Homo sapiens: one gene and its partner. The protein of the gene in region 2 interacts with the protein of the main gene of each other region in a biochemical or structural test. Each region holds a gene or a part of one and is shown on either strand. Other genes may lie near its edges.

The links. Proteins that work in one complex are often made in the same cells at the same time.
Region 1: of the proteins of RCSD1 (region 2) and MAPKAPK3, one has a biochemical effect on the other in vitro, tested with the Homo sapiens proteins (one study listed by BioGRID).

Annotation. Positions count from the first base shown.
Region 1 is NC_000003.12:50,615,113-50,618,859, reverse strand, and holds the start of MAPKAPK3 (MAP kinase-activated protein kinase 3), read right to left. Parts: upstream 1,710-3,747; 5' UTR 1,619-1,709; intron 1,347-1,618; 5' UTR 1,295-1,346; coding exon 1,076-1,294; intron 1-1,075. UniProt on the Homo sapiens protein: Stress-activated serine/threonine-protein kinase involved in cytokines production, endocytosis, cell migration, chromatin remodeling and transcriptional regulation.
Region 2 is NC_000001.11:167,703,178-167,706,924, reverse strand, and holds part of RCSD1 (capZ-interacting protein), read right to left. Parts: intron 2,262-3,747; coding exon 2,229-2,261; 3' UTR 1-2,228. UniProt on the Homo sapiens protein: Stress-induced phosphorylation of CAPZIP may regulate the ability of F-actin-capping protein to remodel actin filament assembly.

The sequences.
Region 1 (3,747 bases), on a different chromosome or scaffold from region 2:
AAATTAGCTGGGCGTGGTGGCGCACGCCTGTAGTCCCAGCTACTCAGGAGGCTGAGGCAGTAAAATCGCTTGAACCTGGGAGGTGGAGGTTGCAGTGAGCTGAGATTGTGCCACTGCACTCCAGCCTGGCGACAGAGTGAGACTCTGCCTCAAAAAAAAAAAATCTTTTGTAAAATGAGAAGGGCCTTTGCTGTACTTCTAGCCTCCAGGAGCCACTATCCCTGCCATGCTCTACCCATCCATTGGCACAAGCTACAAATGAGTAAAGACCCCAGAGATGACAGATTCAAGGGATTCTGGGTATGGGGTGTGGCCCTAGGCCCAGAACTGTATGCCTTAAGCTGGAACCAGGTACCCGCCCCCAGCATCCCCCTGACCCCCACCATGCCACCTATATCAGCATGCCAGGTCTCCAGGGAGCCTATAGTCTGAGGTGGCTAGATGGCTGGCCCGCCCTCTGCCCAGGAACCAGGGGTGGGTTGGCCCAGGGCCTGTCCCTTTCAACACGGGACCAGCGACTCGTCAGGAGTCTATCAGCAGCCTCCTGAGGCTCCACAGGTGCAGTGGGCATCAGCCTTGTCCTCTGGCCAGCCCTGGGAGGCTCACACCACTCCAGCCCAGACAGGCAGGGGCCACAGGGAAGAAGCAGTCCCACCCAAGCCTTGGTGGGGTCTCAGCTTCCAGCAAAGGGAAACAGATCCATTCCAGTCAGAGGAGCTTCACATGGAAGGGGCAGCCAAGCTGAACAAGAGATCCCCTTTGGGCCTGAACACATGGGTCCAGCCAGAATCCCAGAGTCAGGAGTCACCCCTTCCCTGCTTCCGGATACAGCATCTCTAGCCATAGTGACTCCACCCCTTGCTCACTGGGACACTCAAAGCTTAGCTAGGCTACGCCTCAGTTTCCCCATCTGTGAAGTAGGGAGGACCACAAGCCTGACCTTACAGGACAGTATGACGATGAAACATGTTGCTGAGCATAGGAAGCTTAGCAGGGGCGCTAGACATAGCTTCACTCACAGGCTTCCGCTGTGGACCCTCCAGGATACCCCAGGCCTCAGTGAGGGCTCACTGACCTTCAGGGCACACTTCTGTCCAGTGCGCCGATGGAAGCACTCCAGCACTTTGCCGTTCACACCCAGGCCCAGCACCTGCTTGGACAACTGGTAGTCGTCGGTCACTGCGTACTTCTTGGGCTCCCGCCGCCCCCCCGGAGCACCGCCCAAGCCGGGTCCGCCGGGTGCAACTGGCGGGGGCACAGGGCCCCCCTGCTCCTCTGCTGTTTCACCATCCATGGCCCCCGCGGGGCGCTCAGAGGCGGCCCCAGCCTGGCGCTTCTAGTGGCACCTGGGGGAAAGGGGAAGAGTGAGTCCCGCCCAGACTTTTCCAACACACCCCAGCCTTGGAGCCTCTGAACTGGGCTGGGCTGCGAGCCCGGGGCAAGCTGGGAGTGCGGGACGAACGGCCTGAGAGTACAGACGTGCAGCAAGGGGCGGTGGTCGCGCGGCGGGGTACAAGCGAGCACCGCCCGGGCACGTGTCAAGAAGGGAAGGGGCCGGGCGCCTAATGGCCGCGAGGTCCCCGGAGGAGGCCGCAGAGGGGGCCCAGCGAGGGCGTACCTGGCGGCAACGCACCTTGCTGAGGTACCGGCGAGGGGCAGGAGAGGCGGTCGCGGGAGCTGGCGGCCGCAGAAATCCCAGGGCCGAGAGTCGCGCTGCCGGCGCCCACGTGACCTCCCCCCCCTCCCCACCCCCCCCTCCCCCACTCCCCCACTCCACCCCCCGCTCCCTGCGCGTCATCCCAACTTGGGGCCCCGCTAGGTCAGCCTTAAAGGGCCAGGCGGGCCCCGGCTGGGTCCCGCCCCCGAGCCGGAACAAAATAGGAGGCGTGGCTTCCCGAGGGGGCGGTTACTTCCTCGGTTTCCAGGGACACCCAGGGAGGCCCCTGTACTGGCAGTCCGCTACTGTGCGGGTCCCGGGTTTTACTCGCAACCTAGAACGTGACAGCGCAGGACGTCTTATTTCTCTTGAAAGCTCTCCTTGAGTCGGGTGTTTGCTCTGCACGCTGCCAGGTGGCCCTCCAGTATGGCTTGCTAGGCTTCCGACTTGCCTAGTGTTGGCCAACCCTCAGCGTACTCAACTTTTTAAACATGCCGAGGGAGGTGGCATCTTGTCGTTGTTGAATTCGCCACTCTTTAGTCTCTGGTGGCTCTGGGAGTCTCCAGCACTGGCGACTGCCCCCTTTTTGCAGCTCCCGCTTATGCCCTTGACTCGCTGCTTCCCTTTGGTATATACAGCATCCTGGGGACCAGAAATCCCGAGTTGCCATTTGATCAGATCCGCCAACATTTCACCTTATGGTTTGGGCTTTTGGCGTCGTGTTTAAAAAGTCTCTGTCTCCCATCCGAGTGACAGATATTCTCCATTAGCTTTCTAGTTTTGCCTTGCACATATAAGTCTCTGTTAAGCCCATCTTAGACTACCTTACGTATTTTGAGCCAGTTTTCCCAACACCGGCTGTTAAGCAACTCTCATTTCACAGATGAGGAAACTGGGACCCCTGGGGAGAAAACAACTTGTCTAGAGCCATAGGGAGGGTGGCTGTGGCTGTCTTCTGGGACAGATCTGAACTACTTGCGCACATCACATCACTCCCCCAATCCGGAAGCTGAGGGACCTGAGCGAGCTGGCTCACTTGGAACTGGGAAGGTGCGGCTCAGCGCAGGGGCTCTGCATGGGCCTCTGCTGTCATCTACAGGCCATCTACAGGACTGCAGGTACCAGGACCTCGGTTCCACTCAGAGGCGTCTTCCAGCCATCCTACTCTTGGCTCCGGAATTTAGGCCCAGTGAGCGCCTCCCCCTCAGCCCCTCTGGTTAACACACGCACACTCACGGACCCCTGGGCTGCATGTGCAGGCTCATCAGAGAAGTAGCTCTTGGAAAGATGATCTTCTGTCAATGAATGAGTGAATGAGTGACTGAAAGGGTGCTACAACTTATTAGTGGGTACCCACTGTGTGCAGATGTTGAGTGGAGATGGGGTTGGGGCTCTGCCCCTATTTCTTTCAGGCAACCTTCAAGCTAGCAGTGTTCAGTGAAGCAGGAGGCTCCAGACAATAGCCTCAGCTGGCCATAGTGAACACTTCTTGCAGACCAGATGCTGGGAATGTGCTCTCCCTGCAACCCCCTGACCTTACAGAGCCTAGAGGAGGTCACACTATCCCTTCTGCCCCACACTACAGACACACAGGACAGAAAAGCCCAGAGAGGTTAAGTGACCTGTCTGAGGTCAGCAGCTGTCATGACAGAGCCCCCATTCCAACTCCAAAGCACAACCTCAGGGCTGGGCTCTTATCCTCAAACCATGGCCTCCTCTCCTAGTCCTTTCTGGCTCCTCACACAGCCACATGTGCAAACATACTCTCACACATGTACACATGCAGTCACACCTTTACACATGTGCACACACATGCATATAACACGTATAAACACACATGCATATAACACACATGCACACAGATACACATGCACATGTGCACACACACATGCATTTATGCCCAGCTGGACCCAGGATTGATGTCCCTGAGCCCAACCTGAGAATCTGATTCAAGATCTCAGAGCCTCTTTGAAAGCCCTATGATCTGGAATCTTCTACTGCTGGGGGGAGCCAAAGAAGGCTCTCTGCTCTCTGAAGGCAACTAGTTTGAGCCTGGTGAACCTGAGGCTGAGCAAGATGTCATTCTGGTG
Region 2 (3,747 bases):
GTTAATAACTTTGTGCTACCTAAGACACAGATGAATTTCTTTAATCCCAAATTTAGAAGTTCCAGTATCAACCATGCAAATAAAACACCTGATCATGGTTGCTTTGAGAAAGGAGAGTTTTAAGCAGTGGGGCTGCAGCACCAACAAAAATCAGTCCCTGTACTTCATGAGTTCCCTGCCAAGAGCCCCCTTTATTAATGAACAAGCCCTGGGAATGGGGCCTCTATTTTTTTCACAAAATACACCAAATAATGTGACTAACAGGAGACTTGGGGGATAGAAAGGTATTCTGATGCCCACAAGCATGGTGCCGCAATGTCACATTCTTGTCATTTTTACTGCCCCTCTCTCGTCTGCTACTATGTTTAGACCCTCCAGAAGAAAAATGCAGTTTCATTTTTCATATCTAAACCCCATACTTTCTGTTCCATGCCTTCCTCAAGTAAAGTGGCCCTTTTCATCACACATTCACAATCATGCACATATTCACAAAGTACTTGCCCAGATAGTGCATGTGTATAAACAACCCAAAGACATATATAAATAAAACCAAGTATTGTTTAGGGGTAGACTTCTCTGTCAATAAATGGATGGTAGCTAGATTGATAGCAAGCTAGCCAGCTAGATAGATAGACAGACAAGTTTATAGATCTCAAAATAATTGACACACACATCTCCCAAATTCTGCTAATATCCAAAGTTTATCATAGCTATGACAATATCAGTCCCAACCAGGTTACAAGTTTGTTACAAATTACAAACTACTTAAAAACAGTTTTGAAAAAAAATATATCCCAAATATTAACACTAAACACTACCCTGGAGTTAGAAAAACTGTAAATGGGATGAGGAAACTGAGGTACCAGTGGTGACATAAGGCCTTTTTGTCTGACAGACTGTTTTCTGAAGTCAGTGTAGGATGTAGTCTAACAGACCTCCAGAAGAATAATTCTTCCAACTACCAAATCAGCACACTGAGACATTAAAATACTCAAATCAGAATAAGGACCGACCCTAAGTTTAAATGTGTATTTGGATTAACATTTTTCAGCAGGAGTGTATGAAGAGGGGAGAGGATACAAGTCAAAGACTGGGTAGTCAGGCCCCCTGTCCCTTGCAGAATCCCTTACACTCACCAAACAGAATATTAAAGCAAGAGCTACCCAATAAGAAGAGACTAAAGACCCCAACTCACTCCTTTTGTGTTGGGCAGAAGAACCTGGGCTGTGAGTCAAGAAAAGCTTCCCAGGGAAACTAAGAAAAATGTTTTAATTATGTAGCTTGCACATAATGGTACTCAAGGCACCTCCCAGGAAACATCTAATCCATGCTCAAGGATTCTGGAAATGCAAATTCATCCTCACAGGATCAATCGGAGAGCCAGCATTATTCAGGTATCACTGCTTTTCTTTCAGGAGGAGATGCAACGCGGGACATGAAACCTCCTGCCATTCTGCCTCTCCATGGGAGTTCTCCACATTCTCAAGGGTGGGAGAAGGGAGTGAGCCGAGCCAGCGACCTCCCATGGTGGTCACCAACTGGAAAACCACAGGACAGGAAAAGCTCCTGCGAATGGAGCACTTTTTTTTTTTAAATGTTTCAATCATTATCTCTTCTAGTCCAGTGTTTTAAAGACTGGTTGGCCAGTTCAAATTTGGATCAAATTGAAAAGTTGTCTCTAGGGTTTTGATACAATTTAGGGTCTTCTGTAACTTACAGGGTTTCTATTTTATGTTTATGGCCACCTAAAATTAGTTTTTAACTGATATTTGAGAACCGTAAACACTTTAGAACATTAAAAAGGAACTTTACCCAAGCAAAATCTGATCAGCTAAATTAGAGCTCAGTTAAATTAGAGATCAGCTAAATTAGCTGCAGGGATAGGTGGGTGTGGATAGCATCCAGGGCTCCACAGGCTGACCAGTGCCCCTGGGACTCATCACCACAGTACATTGTTTTAAGTAAGTTCTTGTTGTTGAACCAAGTCCATCAAATGACATAAACTCAAGCTGATAAAAGTCTGCTGCCCTCAGATTCAGTCTCCATCTGCAAGGGAACGTTTGGTGTGGAGGCCAGGAAATAATCCACCCTGTGTCTTCAGGCTGACTCCAGACACTCAGCATATTCTGCCTCTGCAATGGCTTCGTCTGCTGCTGCTACAACTGTTGCTGCTACCTGCAAAGAGATGTGTCCAGCAACTTCATCACTGGGGCACAATGAGCTGTTCTTCACATTTTAGTGTCCTGGACAGGAGTGTCATCCTGTGAACAGGGGAGGAAAGAATTAATTAGGAAAATGGTGAGGAAATCCTGACACTCAGCATCCCTCCTTGGGGATGATGGATCTGGCAATAATAGTAACAGTAGGAGTAATAGTAAGAATGATAGTCATAAGAATGCTATGTGCCCAACTTAGTTTTTTTTATGCATTGACTTATTTAATCCTCACAAAAGCAATATGAGGTAGTTACTTTTATTAACTCTATCATAGGTGAGGCAATGAAGGCACAGAGAGGTTATTTCCCCTAGGTCACACAGCTAGTAAGTGGTGAAGTCAGGATTTTAACCCAGGGATCAGAGCTTGAGTTGTCCAGTACTAAGTGACCCTGCCCACCCTTGATGCCTGAGTTCCCTCTATCTTGGCCTCTTACCTATTCACTCATTCCCATTCAATGTGCTCTCCTGAAACACTGCTCAAGATTCTTAGGCAGCATATAAATGGAAAAAGGACAGAAAGAGTTGAAAATAAAAGACCAATACTTGAGTAAAAGGACAGTAAAGTAGCTATTTATTCAACAGTCATTCCGAAGGTATTACTTTGAGATCCTTCTGTGCTAGGAGCTGTACCAGGACTCCAGCCTCGTCCCCATCAGTTCTTTTGCTGAGAAATGGAAACATTTGGGAATGTAACCACAGTACAAGGTGGGGTGTGATGTGGACCATCCTAGTGGATTATACTGAGCAGGGGGGCATTTGTCCTCAGAGCAATCAGAAAAGGCTTGTGGAGGGGAAGATAGAGGTGTGGTGAGAGGACTTCCAGGTACCAGTGAGGGCTGGGTTAAAGTGGGCTGCAGGCAATTTCAGCTGGCAGTGCAGGCATTTGGGCAAAGAGGCTGTGGGAGTGGGTGAGGAGATGCCTTGCCTAATGCAGAATGGTGGAGGGTGCAGGCTGGCTGGAGCCCCGGCCCCACTATTGGGGAGCATGGAGACAGTGAAGGTTAGGCATGTGGCAAAGCCCAGCCCATGGAGGAGCATGAACTCCATTTTCCAGTGGGCAGTATCAAAGGGTTTGGGATAGGAGAGCAGACAACCTATGGTATTTATAGGAAGAGGCATTTGTCACTGATGTGTAGGGTGAGTCTGGAAACCAGGAATTCTGTTAGGAATGAGTTGTGATTGTAGAGATAGAAAAGAAAGGCTAGCACTGGTATCATCATAGAGATGGGGTTGTGCCATGTTGCCCAGGCTGGTCTCCAGCTCCTGGGCTCCAGCGATCCTCATGCCTCGGCCTCCTAAAATACTGGGATCACAGGTGTGAGGCACTGTGCCTGGTCACAATTCCATTATTGATTGAGCTCCCACAAAGCGCTGGTCATGCTCGGGGCTGAGGAGGGTCAAGGAGGAGCGGTGGGTGGGAAAGGGGAAAAGGAGGAGAGACAGAGGGATCTCTGGCAAGGACAGTTAATGTGTCTGAGGGATGATTGAGGTGGGAATGCAGGGAGTGTGTCCCCAAAAGAACTGAGAAGAA